3 linked regions of the Homo sapiens genome follow. The protein of the gene in region 1 purifies or fractionates together with the protein of each later gene. This does not show direct contact. Each region holds a gene or a part of one and is shown in the gene's direction. Other genes may lie near its edges.

What was found.
Region 2: the proteins of CDKN2AIPNL (region 1) and SPTB purify together in Homo sapiens (affinity purification with mass spectrometry; one large-scale study listed by BioGRID and IntAct). This does not show direct contact.
Region 3: the proteins of CDKN2AIPNL (region 1) and TAF12 purify together in Homo sapiens (affinity purification with mass spectrometry; one large-scale study listed by BioGRID and IntAct). This does not show direct contact.

What each region holds. Positions count from the first base shown.
Region 1 is NC_000005.10:134,405,368-134,409,018, reverse strand, and holds part of CDKN2AIPNL (CDKN2AIP N-terminal-like protein), read left to right. Parts: intron 1-3,651.
Region 2 is NC_000014.9:64,771,757-64,775,407, reverse strand, and holds part of SPTB (spectrin beta chain, erythrocytic), read left to right. Parts: intron 1-4; coding exon 5-283; intron 284-880; coding exon 881-1,011; intron 1,012-1,983; coding exon 1,984-2,188; intron 2,189-2,453; coding exon 2,454-2,828; intron 2,829-3,651.
Region 3 is NC_000001.11:28,612,024-28,615,674, reverse strand, and holds part of TAF12 (transcription initiation factor TFIID subunit 12), read left to right. Parts: intron 1-2,313; coding exon 2,314-2,428; intron 2,429-3,651. UniProt on the Homo sapiens protein: The TFIID basal transcription factor complex plays a major role in the initiation of RNA polymerase II (Pol II)-dependent transcription.

The sequences.
Region 1 (3,651 bases):
CCCATTCCTCCACATTTAGGTCTTGTCTTGGGAGGTGGGGCACATATAGAGGTCCTCTTCCATATGGGTGTCAAGGAACTAATCAGATTCTCAGTTGCTCATAAAGTATTTCAGTCCCAAATAGTACACCCCACTTGATTTTCAGGATGGTTTGTTTTTCTTAAAAAAGTATTCTTTTAGTTTTAATCTGAACCTGGGGAAAAGCTTCAGGTTGGTTTTCGAGATGCTATTATGTTTTAAAATCAGCTGTTACCTCAACACAGTACTCCTGACAAAAAATCAGTAAGTAAAATCAGCTGTTTTTTTGTTTTTGTTTGTTTGTTTGTTTGTTTTTGAGAGGGAGTCTCCCTGTGTCGCCCAGGCTGGAGTGAGGTGGTGCGATCTGGGCTCACTGCAAGCTCTGCCTCCCAGGTTCACACCATTCTCCTGCCTCAGCCTCCTGAGTAGCTGGGACTACAGGCGCCTGCCACCACGCCCAGCCAATTTTTTTTTTTTTTTTTTTTTTGTATTTTTAGTAGAGACGGGGTTTCACCGTGTTAGCCAGGATGGTCTCGATCTCCTGACCTCGTGATCCGCCCGCCTCGGCCTCCCAAAGTGCTGGGATTACAGGTGTGAGCCACCGCACCAGGACTAAAATCAGCTGTTAAAAAGGGGCTACTGTTTTTAGCCAGGGAGCAGTGTGAATTGGGAGTGTGTGGCTTTTTGGATCTTCTCATGTAATACTTAAAAAAATACTGGGCAGTCCTTGGGTGTTCTATAGTAAGGTTCTTGGGGCCCAGCCAGGGAGGAGCTAGATAGTTTCTGGCTACTGGAGTATACCTTATGGGGCAGGGGCAGGGGCAGAGGTAGGCAGGGAATGAGGTGAGCCTTTATTTTTAATTTATTTTTTAGATAGAGGCTCACTTTGTCACCCAGGCTGGAGTGCAGTGGCACGATCTCAGCTCACTGCAACCTCTGCCTCCCAGGCTCAAGTGATTCTAGCGCCACAGCCTCCCCAGTAGCTGGGATTACAGCCGGGTGCCACCATACCCAGCTAATTTTTGTATTTTTAGTAGAGAAAGGGTTTTGCCATGTTGTCCAGGCTGGTCTTGAACTCCTGGCCTCAAGTGATCTGCCCAGCTTCCCAAAGTGCTAGGATTACAGGCGTGAGCCACTGCACCTGGCCGAGCCTTTATTTTTTAACTGCTTGTGATAGATTCTTTCCTTTTTGTTTCTAAGAGGTTTTCTGATTTTCCTTTTTTTTTTTTTTTGAGATGGAGTTTTGCTCTTGTTGCCCAGGCTGGAGTGCAATGGTTCAGCTCACTGCAACCTCTGCCTCGCGAGTTTAAGCGATCCCTTGCCTCAGCGTCCCAAGAAGCTGGGATTACAGGCGCCTGCCACCACGCGCGGCTATTTTTTGTATTTTTTAGTAGAGATGAGGTTTCACCATGTTGGCCAAGTTGTTCTCGAACTCCTGACCTCAGGTGATCCACCCACCTCAGCTTCCCAAAGTGCTGGGATTACATGCGTTAGCCACTGTGCCCAGCAAGGTTTTCTGATTTTTTATATCAGTTCTCCATTATACTTCTCTGTCTTATATGTTTTCTGAAAGGTATCTGAACTCTTTCCAGTCATGTTGGGTATTAGAGATCAGAACACCTAATGACATTGGGCTGCAGACCCCAGTAGGAGACTAAGGAGGTTTGGCACGTCCCAAACATTATCTATAGACCAGTGTGAAGTGTGTGTGTGTGTGTGTGTGTGTGTGTGTGTGTGTGTGTGTTAGGAAGGGTCTTTCTGAAACATCCTAAAGGGGTCTTATACCTAAAAAATGTACAGAGCCCCTGCCCTGGGATGTTCATTCTTGACACTGTCATTGCACAGTGTGAGTCTACAGAGAAGAGTCCTCAGGCATGAAATTATCTTCTTGAAACCAGTGCCGCCATCTTACTAATCATTAGCAGTTAGCTATGTGGAAGAAGCCTATATAGAGGCCATACTTCTATAGCATTTTTGAATTGTGTGTTGCAACTTCCTTCAAATAAAACTTATGTTTTTCTAAGTAGCCAGGTTTAACTTTAGTCTGTTGATGCCACTCTAAGTGAAATTCAGCTGATCCTGAAAAGTGAGATACTTAGAGGGTGCATAGAGTTTTGCCAGTTTTGTTTTCAGACAGGGGTCTCTCTCTGTGGCTCAGGCTGGAGTGCAGTGGCTTGCTCACGGCTACCCGCAGCCTTGACCTGCCAGGCTCAAGTGATCCTTGCACCTTAGCCTCCCCAGTAGCTGGGACTACAGGTGTGTACCACCATGCTTGGCTAATTTTTGTAGAGACTGGGTTTTGCTATGTTCCCCAGGCTGGTCTCAAATGATCCACCTGCCTCAGCCTCCCAAAGTGCTGGTGTGAGTCACTGTGCCTGGTGAATCTTTAAGACTCTTCCAGATAAGCCCATTCTGAGAACGAGTCATCTGATCTATGTACCATGACAAATTTGTGTGGTATTGAAGGCTGTCCCCTCTCCATTGAATGCCACTGGAAAGAGAGCCATGAGGACTTTGCAGCAGTTTCATCCTTTGCCTGCAGTTTTTGCACACATGACAGAGGATGCTGAAAAACATTAGGCAACATTGCCAGCCCATAGACAAAATACTCCTGATGTCCAGCCATACACCTGAAAACGTCTGTTGTTGTTCTGCCCAGAATTGATGCTTTAGCTAAAAAATTAGAGTTTAGTTGGGTTTTAAAGCTAGCTACCAAGTGGAAGTAAATTGCCTGGCATTGTTGGTATCTCAAGACAGACAGTGATGATGATTTGGAGACATAAGCTCTTTAAGATTTTAAAAATACTTTATGGCTATTCTGCAGCTTTGAGGCAAGTAGATCTCTGCAATCTGTCCAGCTCTTTTTTTAAGTCTGAGAAAAGAAATGAGCATTGGTTTCTGACAGGTGGAATTTGTTGGACAGTTGCAGTATATGATTTTTTTTCTTTTGAAAGGGGATTCAAACACACATACATTGAGTAAACAATCTTGATTATCTAACTGCCATCCTAGGCTACTGCTGGCAGCCTTTGTGGTTGCTCACCTTACCAATTAATGAGCGATAATTAACAAAGAGCAGCAGCTGACTCAGGAAAGATGTCATTGCTATGACTGTCAGAATTAATATTTCCAAGGTAATGTTTTAAGGAGAAAGGAGTGATTGACTAGGAAGCTATCATTATTGACTCAAAGAAAGAAGCTGTCAACCTAATTTACGTGGTCCATTTTTTTCTGAGAACATTTTTATCCCAAGAGGGAAAATGGCAGTATGAAAAGTGACTATGAAGGCTGGGCGTGGTGGCTCATGCCTGTAATCCTAACACTTTGGGAGGCCGAGGCAGGCAGGTCACGAGGTCAGGAGTTTGAGACCAGTCTGACCAACATGGTGAAACCCCGTCTCTGCTAAAAATACAAAAATTAGCTGGGCATGGTGGCACGTGCCTGTAATCCCAGCTACTCAAGAGGCTGAGGCAGGAGAATCACTTGAACCCGGGAGGTGGAGGTTGCAGTGAGCCGAGATCGTGTCATTGCACTCCAGCCTGGGCGACAGAGTGAGACTCTGTCTCAAAAAATAATAATTAAAAAAAAGAAAAATGGGCTGGGCGCGGTGGCTCACGCCTGTAATCCCAGCAC
Region 2 (3,651 bases), on another chromosome or scaffold:
GCAGACACTGCAGAATGAGATTCTGGGCCATACGCCGCGGGTTGAGGATGTGCTGCAGAGAGGGCAGCAGCTGGTGGAGGCGGCGGAGATCGACTGCCAGGACCTTGAGGAGCGCCTGGGGCACCTGCAGAGCTCCTGGGACAGGCTGCGGGAGGCAGCGGCCGGGAGGCTGCAGCGACTGAGGGACGCCAACGAGGCACAGCAGTACTACCTGGATGCAGACGAGGCTGAGGCCTGGATTGGCGAGCAGGAGCTCTACGTCATCTCCGATGAGATCCCCAAGGTCTGTTCGGGCAGGGGATACCAGCCAGGGTGCCCAGGCAGAGAGGAAGAGTTGAGGTTGGCTGTCGGTAGGGAGCCTTGTGAGTCCAACTGTGTGAGGAGTGAGGCCAGGGGAGGGGCACAAGGAACCCACAGACTCCCTGCCCTCCCTTGGTGCCTCCTTGAACACACCCCTGCAGGGCACACACTGAAGCCAGGTGCCTCCTGTTTACCCACTTAGGTTTGCTCTAACCCAAGGGTTCTCTACTTTTCTTTACCCTGGATTCTGTACGCTATGAAAGAGATGGGGTGAGAGGTGACAGGTGGGGGTCTCTCAAAGCTGGAATGATATAGGATGTTTTCATGGGGACAGGGGTTAGAGCACAAAAGGAAGGGTATATGTCGGATACGAATCAGGGGAGTCCAGAGAGGAAGGTAGGGCACGGGCATTGCTGGGAAATCAGAAGGGCAGGAAGGAAGCATGTGTGGCTCTCCTGCGGGTGTCCCACAAGCCTACTCCCCTCCTCCCTCGGGCACCTCCAGGAGTGGGGGCACAACTTGCCAAGGGAGGGATCATGGCCAGACTGAGCTCTGGCGCTGACCGTCTGCTGCCTCCTAGGATGAAGAGGGCGCCATTGTGATGCTGAAGCGACATTTGCGGCAGCAGCGTGCGGTGGAGGACTACGGCCGGAACATCAAGCAGCTGGCCAGCCGGGCCCAGGGCCTGCTGTCTGCAGGCCACCCTGAGGGGTGCGTGCGCCCCCTGTGGTGACTCGGTCAGGAGATGGGGATTGAGCCAGGGGCCCACCAGCCAACGTCCCTTCAGATTTAAAAGGAAAATGGAAAGAGTTTTCCCATCAAATAGGGCTGGAGAAAATTGCTGCGGGACTGGTGATGGATCCAATTTCATTTTATGCCTTGGTTTTGTGTGAATCACTTCCAGCTGGGCCATCGAGGCCCTGGTTTTCGAAATGATCAGAGAAGGGGTTAGCAAAACTACCCTCTTGGTGACCTGAGAGCACCAATTTTCCGAAGGGTTACAATATGCTAAGGGACACTGAAGACTACTTTAGCTTTTATTTTTATGGTCCAGAAGGTCTCCAGGACTTCACAGTCCAGACAGAACCATGATGTAGGAGTGCAGGTGGAAACCTGTGCCCACATGGGCTGCGAGGTTTTGTGGATCCTGCATAAATGGAAGCCCACTGGGCCACAGACCACACACTGCCCCCAGCCATGGCCCTGTCCTCAGCTGCCATTAGGGTGCCCACCACTGTGGGTCCTCAGCAGCCACCCCAGAGGTTTCCCTGGGAGCCACATTGTCTGGGCCCCTAGTATGTCTTTTCCCTCCCTGGAGGGCTGAGCAGAGCTGTTGCTGCGGGAGCCCCACTCAGGTAGTGCTGCTCCCCCAGCCTCTCTGGAAGAACAATGGAGGCGTTCCCCATTTGCACTTGTCCCTGTAAGCTTGCCAGAGTGAGGGGCACCATGGGAAGCACCCCTCCAGGACAGAATTCCAGGACACAGTGTGTCATCCCCTGAGGCTAGGGTGTGGCCCCTTCTCTCCCCAGCTCTTCCCCGGCAAAGCCCCTGTCATTTCTCCAGAGCTTCACTCCCTACCTATCCCTGCCAGGGGGCTGTGGTTGGCATATGTTGGCTCCCTGGAGCCACGGCTCTGGGTTCGTGGCTGCCGTCTCTGAGGGCCTTTTTGGTTTTGAATTCCAGGGAACAGATCATCAGACTTCAGGGGCAAGTGGACAAGCACTACGCAGGGCTGAAGGACGTGGCGGAAGAGCGCAAGCGCAAGCTGGAGAACATGTACCACCTGTTCCAGCTCAAGCGGGAGACCGACGACCTGGAGCAGTGGATTTCAGAAAAGGAGCTAGTGGCCTCTTCCCCGGAAATGGGGCAAGACTTTGACCACGTGACTGTGAGTAGCCACAACTCCTGCTGTTTTTGTCTTTCTCTAATGCGGTAGACGCAGCCAGCCGTCACTCAAGACACACAGAGTGCTGCATAGGACGTAACCTCCCCAGTGTGAGGCGGGACCAGCCGATGCAGGCCTGCCCTGGGGAAGGTGTGACAGCGCAGCTCCCGGAGCTGCAGTTGCTGCCTGGGAAAGTCTTTGGCTAAGCTGGTGACACCTGTAACCCCTGTGCCCCCCATAACCACATTTCTGTCTGCCCCATGCCTAGCTTCTGCGGGACAAGTTCCGGGACTTTGCCCGGGAGACCGGGGCGATTGGGCAGGAGCGGGTGGACAATGTGAATGCCTTCATCGAGCGACTCATCGACGCGGGCCACAGCGAGGCGGCCACCATCGCCGAGTGGAAGGACGGGCTGAACGAGATGTGGGCAGACCTCCTGGAGCTCATTGACACGCGCATGCAGCTGCTGGCCGCCTCCTATGACCTGCACCGCTACTTCTACACGGGTGCCGAGATCCTGGGCCTCATCGACGAGAAGCACCGCGAGCTGCCCGAGGACGTGGGGCTGGACGCCAGCACGGCCGAGTCCTTCCACCGGGTGCACACAGCCTTCGAGCGGGAGCTCCACCTGCTGGGTGTCCAGGTACCTTCAGCCCCCTGCCGCCCACCTGCTACCAATTTCCAGGAGCCCTGGGTGTCAGTCCCCACCTGGCTGTCAGCAGGAAAACCTCTAGGATAAGTGCCAGGAGGTTTTGCCTCCTTAGACAGCCAGGAGCTCAGGGCTGGGAGCAGTGGCTTTCAGATGTTCCTTAGCTTCAGAAGTCATTCTTTAAACTGAATCCTCACAAAAGGCCAATGCATACAATACTATACGGTTGCAGTTTCTCCAGTTGTGCAGTACTATTAGTGGACACACGCACAGCACTTTTCTAGCACCAGGTGCTCTTCTGAGCAATGTATGTAGCCGCTGGACCCTCATGGCAGTCCTCTGAGGCAGCTACTAATATTCCCTGCACTTTGTAGATGAGAAAAGGGAGAGGTAGAAGACCCATAAGTTTCCCAGGAACATGTAGGTACGAAGTGGAGCCAGGGCTCAGACCCTGGCAGTCTAGCTATAGACCCCACATACTTAGCCACCGGGCACTTCAGCCTTTCCACATGGGAGCTGGAGAGCCCCCAAGTTCTACTGTTCAGACCCCTGCCCCATCACTGGAGTGCCCTCCGCAGATCCGTAGGGTGCCCCAGAGCTTGGTGTGATAGAAAGGGCAAATGCAAGGGGGCCCCTGTTGCTGAGGGCTCCCCCAGCTTCCAGTGCAGCAGGGAGAGGTAGGCTGGCTGCGCAATCCCAGGCCAGCCCTGCAGGGCTTGGGGACAGAACACCAGGGTTGGCTGGGCCCCTGGTTCATCCAAAAGGGGACCTCTTAGGGAAGTGTCCTCCAGCTGGAGTGGAGGGCCTGGTGTGTGGC
Region 3 (3,651 bases), on another chromosome or scaffold:
CGGAGTCTCGCTCTGTTGACCAGGCTGGAGTGCAGCGGCATGATCTTGGCTCACTGCAACCTCCACCTCCCGGGTTCAAGTGATTCTCCTGCATCAGCCTCCTGAGAAGCTGGGACTACAGGCACACGCCACCACACCTGGCTAATTTTTGTAATTTTAGTAGAGACGGGGTTTCACCATATTGGTCAAGCTAGTCTCGAACTCCTGACCTCAGGTCATCCACCCACTTCGGCCTCCCAAAGTGCTGGGATTACAGGCATGAGCCACTGCACCTGGCAATATTTTTTTAACTTATTTTAATGGGATTAGGGAGGGACAGGAGGTTATTTTTAGAGTTGATCTGCTGTTTAATCTGAAATCTTTCTCTAAGATGGTGTCCATTTGGTTCCCACAGTAAAGATGACAATGAGTTAATGGTCCACCAGAACAAGGAATTTTGTATCTATGGTTGTAATTTTAGTTTGTTTTTGTTTGTCAGCAGAAGCTGCCATGGGGACTATATTGACTGATAAAAATCTCAGTTTTTTCATGTGCGTGCATATATATATATTTATTTATTTATTTATTTTTGAGACAAGGTGTCTGTCACCTAGGCTGGAGTGCCGTGCCATGATCACAGCTCACTGTAGTCTCGACTAACTGGACTCAAGCAGGCGTCCCACTTCAGCCTCCCAAGTAACTGGGACTACAAGTGCATGCCACCAAGCCCAGCTAATTTCTGTATGTTTTGTAGAGACAGGGTTTTGCCATCCATGTTGCCCAGGCTAGTCTCGAACTCCAGAGCTCAATCAAACCATCTGCCTCGGCCTCCCGAAGTGGTGGGATTATAGGAGTGAGCCACTGCTCCTGGCCTCGTAGATTTTTATCTTCAGAATTCTCATCCTTCTCTTCACACAGTCCAATAATAATTGATAGTGATGTGGAAAGAACTCAAGATTTAGACTCAGAACGCTTGAGGTGGCATCCTGGTTCCTCTGCTTGCTTGCTTTTTTTTTTTTTTGTCTCGCCCTGTCACCCAGGCTGGAGTGCAGTGGTTCAGTCTCGGCTCACTGCAACCTCTGCTGCCCCGGCTTCAGCGATTCTCCTGCCTCAACCTCCAGAGTAGCTGGGATTACAGATGCCTGCCACCATGCCCAGCTAATTTTGTATTTTTAGTAGAGGCAGGGTTTTACCATGTTGGTCAGGCTGGTCTCAAATTCCTGACTTCAGTTGATCCACCTGCCTTGGCCTTCCAAAGTGCTGGGATTATAGGCATGAGCCACTGTGCCTGGCCCTTAGAGACTGGGTTTCACCATGTTGGTCAGGCTGGTCTCAAACTCCTGACCTCAAATGATCTGCCCACCTCAGCCTCCCAAAGTTCTGGGATTATAGGTGTGAGCCACCATGCCTGGCCTCTATTTATTTGTTATTATTTTTTTAATTATTGGTTTTTTGTTTTGAGACAGAGTCTCGCTCTGTCGCCAGGCTGGAGTACAGTGTCACGATCTTAGCTCACTGCAACCTCCGCCTCCCAGGTTCAGGTAATTCTCCTGCCCCAGCCTCCCAAGTAGCTGGGACTACAGGCACGTGCCACCACGCCCAGCTAATTTTTGTATTTTTAGTAGAGACAGGGTTTCACCATGTTGGCCAGGATGGTCTCAATCTCTTGACCTCGTGATTCACCTGCCTCAGCCTCCCAAAGTGCTGGGGTTACAGGCGTGAGCCACCACGCCCGGCCTATTTATTTTTAAATACAGATGGGGCTCTTGCAATATTGTTGGGCTGGTCTCGAACTTCTGACCTCAAGTGATCCTCCCAACTCGGCTTCCCAAAGTGCTGAGATTACAGGCATGAGCCATTGTACCTGGCCTTCTGCTTTCTACTTACATGGCCATGAACAAATTAGTCTCTCTGAGTCTGTGAAATCCTCTATGGAATGAATAAAATCCATGTCCCATTTTCTTCACAGGATTATTGTAAGGACTAAGTGAGATAATGGAAACAAAAGTGCTTTTAAGATACTGTGAGTGAGGAATTGAAATGATTCACTTTTATTTTCCCACTAATAAATAAAGATATGGAGGGTAGGGATTGGGATAGTTGATCACTGCTGGGTAGAAAGTATATGCTCAGAAAGGTGTGAGTTGCACTCAACCTGGGTAACATTTCTTTTGTCCTTCTCATTCCTCTTCCCCACCTTAGCCCAAATGCTGATTCCAGCCTTCTACTAGAATGCCTGACTAAATATGCAATCCAAGCTGAAAGCAGTTGTCCCAGCAACAGGAGCCTACCCTGCCAATGTCGTGCTGACTCTTCCCACTTTACCTTCCCCAGATGCTGCTGCAGATTGCTGATGATTTTATCGAGAGTGTGGTGACAGCAGCCTGTCAGCTTGCGCGGCATCGCAAGTCTAGCACCCTGGAGGTGAAAGATGTCCAGCTGCATTTAGGTATGTGGTCTTGTTTCTCCCTGAAGTATGGATTCAACTGCTTCTTCAGGACTGCCAGGGAAAGTGTAGTCAGAGGAACCTTCATGCCAGAACCAGACTTTTGGGCACTGGGATTTATGTATTAATTCAATAACAGCACCAAATAGAAAAGAGAAATCCATCTGTGGTAGGGAGAATGAGCCCAGGCATGGGTTTGAAACCAGATTCTGCCACTTTCTAGTTGTATCAGCCTATTTTTCCTACCTAGTATCTCTTAGAGTCTGTTTCCTCATTTGTAAAGTGAGGATCATAATATCCTCCTTACAGAATAATCGTGAGAATTATAGACCATGTCTGTAAAGTGACTGGCACAGGGCCTGCACAAAGTAGGATCTAGTCAATGTAGGTACTGTTATGTCTTCACCATGCAAATAAAACTGTTCCTCAGTGTTCCCTTAGAGTTTTAGCCTATTTATGCATTTTTTCCAAAGTTTATAATCGTAATATACATACAATTTTATAGTCTCCTTTTCTACTTAACAGACACTAAATTTGAGTTTGAGTTTTTCTGGGAGATACTCAGCTAACAGTGATGACCATAATCACTTGGAAATGAATAAGCAGCCCTCTGCATTGGATACGATGTGATTAAAAGAAAGAGATCAGTCTATAACTATGTGTTATATATATGTATATATATGTATATATTTATGTGTGTATATATATTTATATATAATTTATATATATTTATATATAATTTTTATATATATTTGTATATACTTTATGTATAATACTTTATATATATAAATATATATATATATATTTTTTTGATCGAGTCTCACTGTCACCCAGGTTAGAGTGCAGTGATGCCATCTCAGCAACCTCTACCTCCTGGGTTCAAGCGATTCTCCTGCCTCAGCCTCCTAAGTAGCTGGGACTACAGGCCTGCACCACCACACCTGGCTAATTTTTGTATTTTCAGTAGAGATAGGGTTTCATCATGTTGGTCAGCCTGGTCTTGTACTCCTGGCCTCTGTTGATCCACCTGCCTTGGCCTCCCAAAGTGCTGGGATTACAGTCATGAGCCACCATGCCCAGCCCAGTCTATAACTATAGAGACAGGCCAAATGAATGAGATTCGGTGCAGATCAGCCCATGACTAATTATTGAAAGACTTTCTTCACAGTGTCAAGAAGCTGTTGCCTTGGGGAGGCATTGGTAGTCTAGGTAAAGTAAATAACACA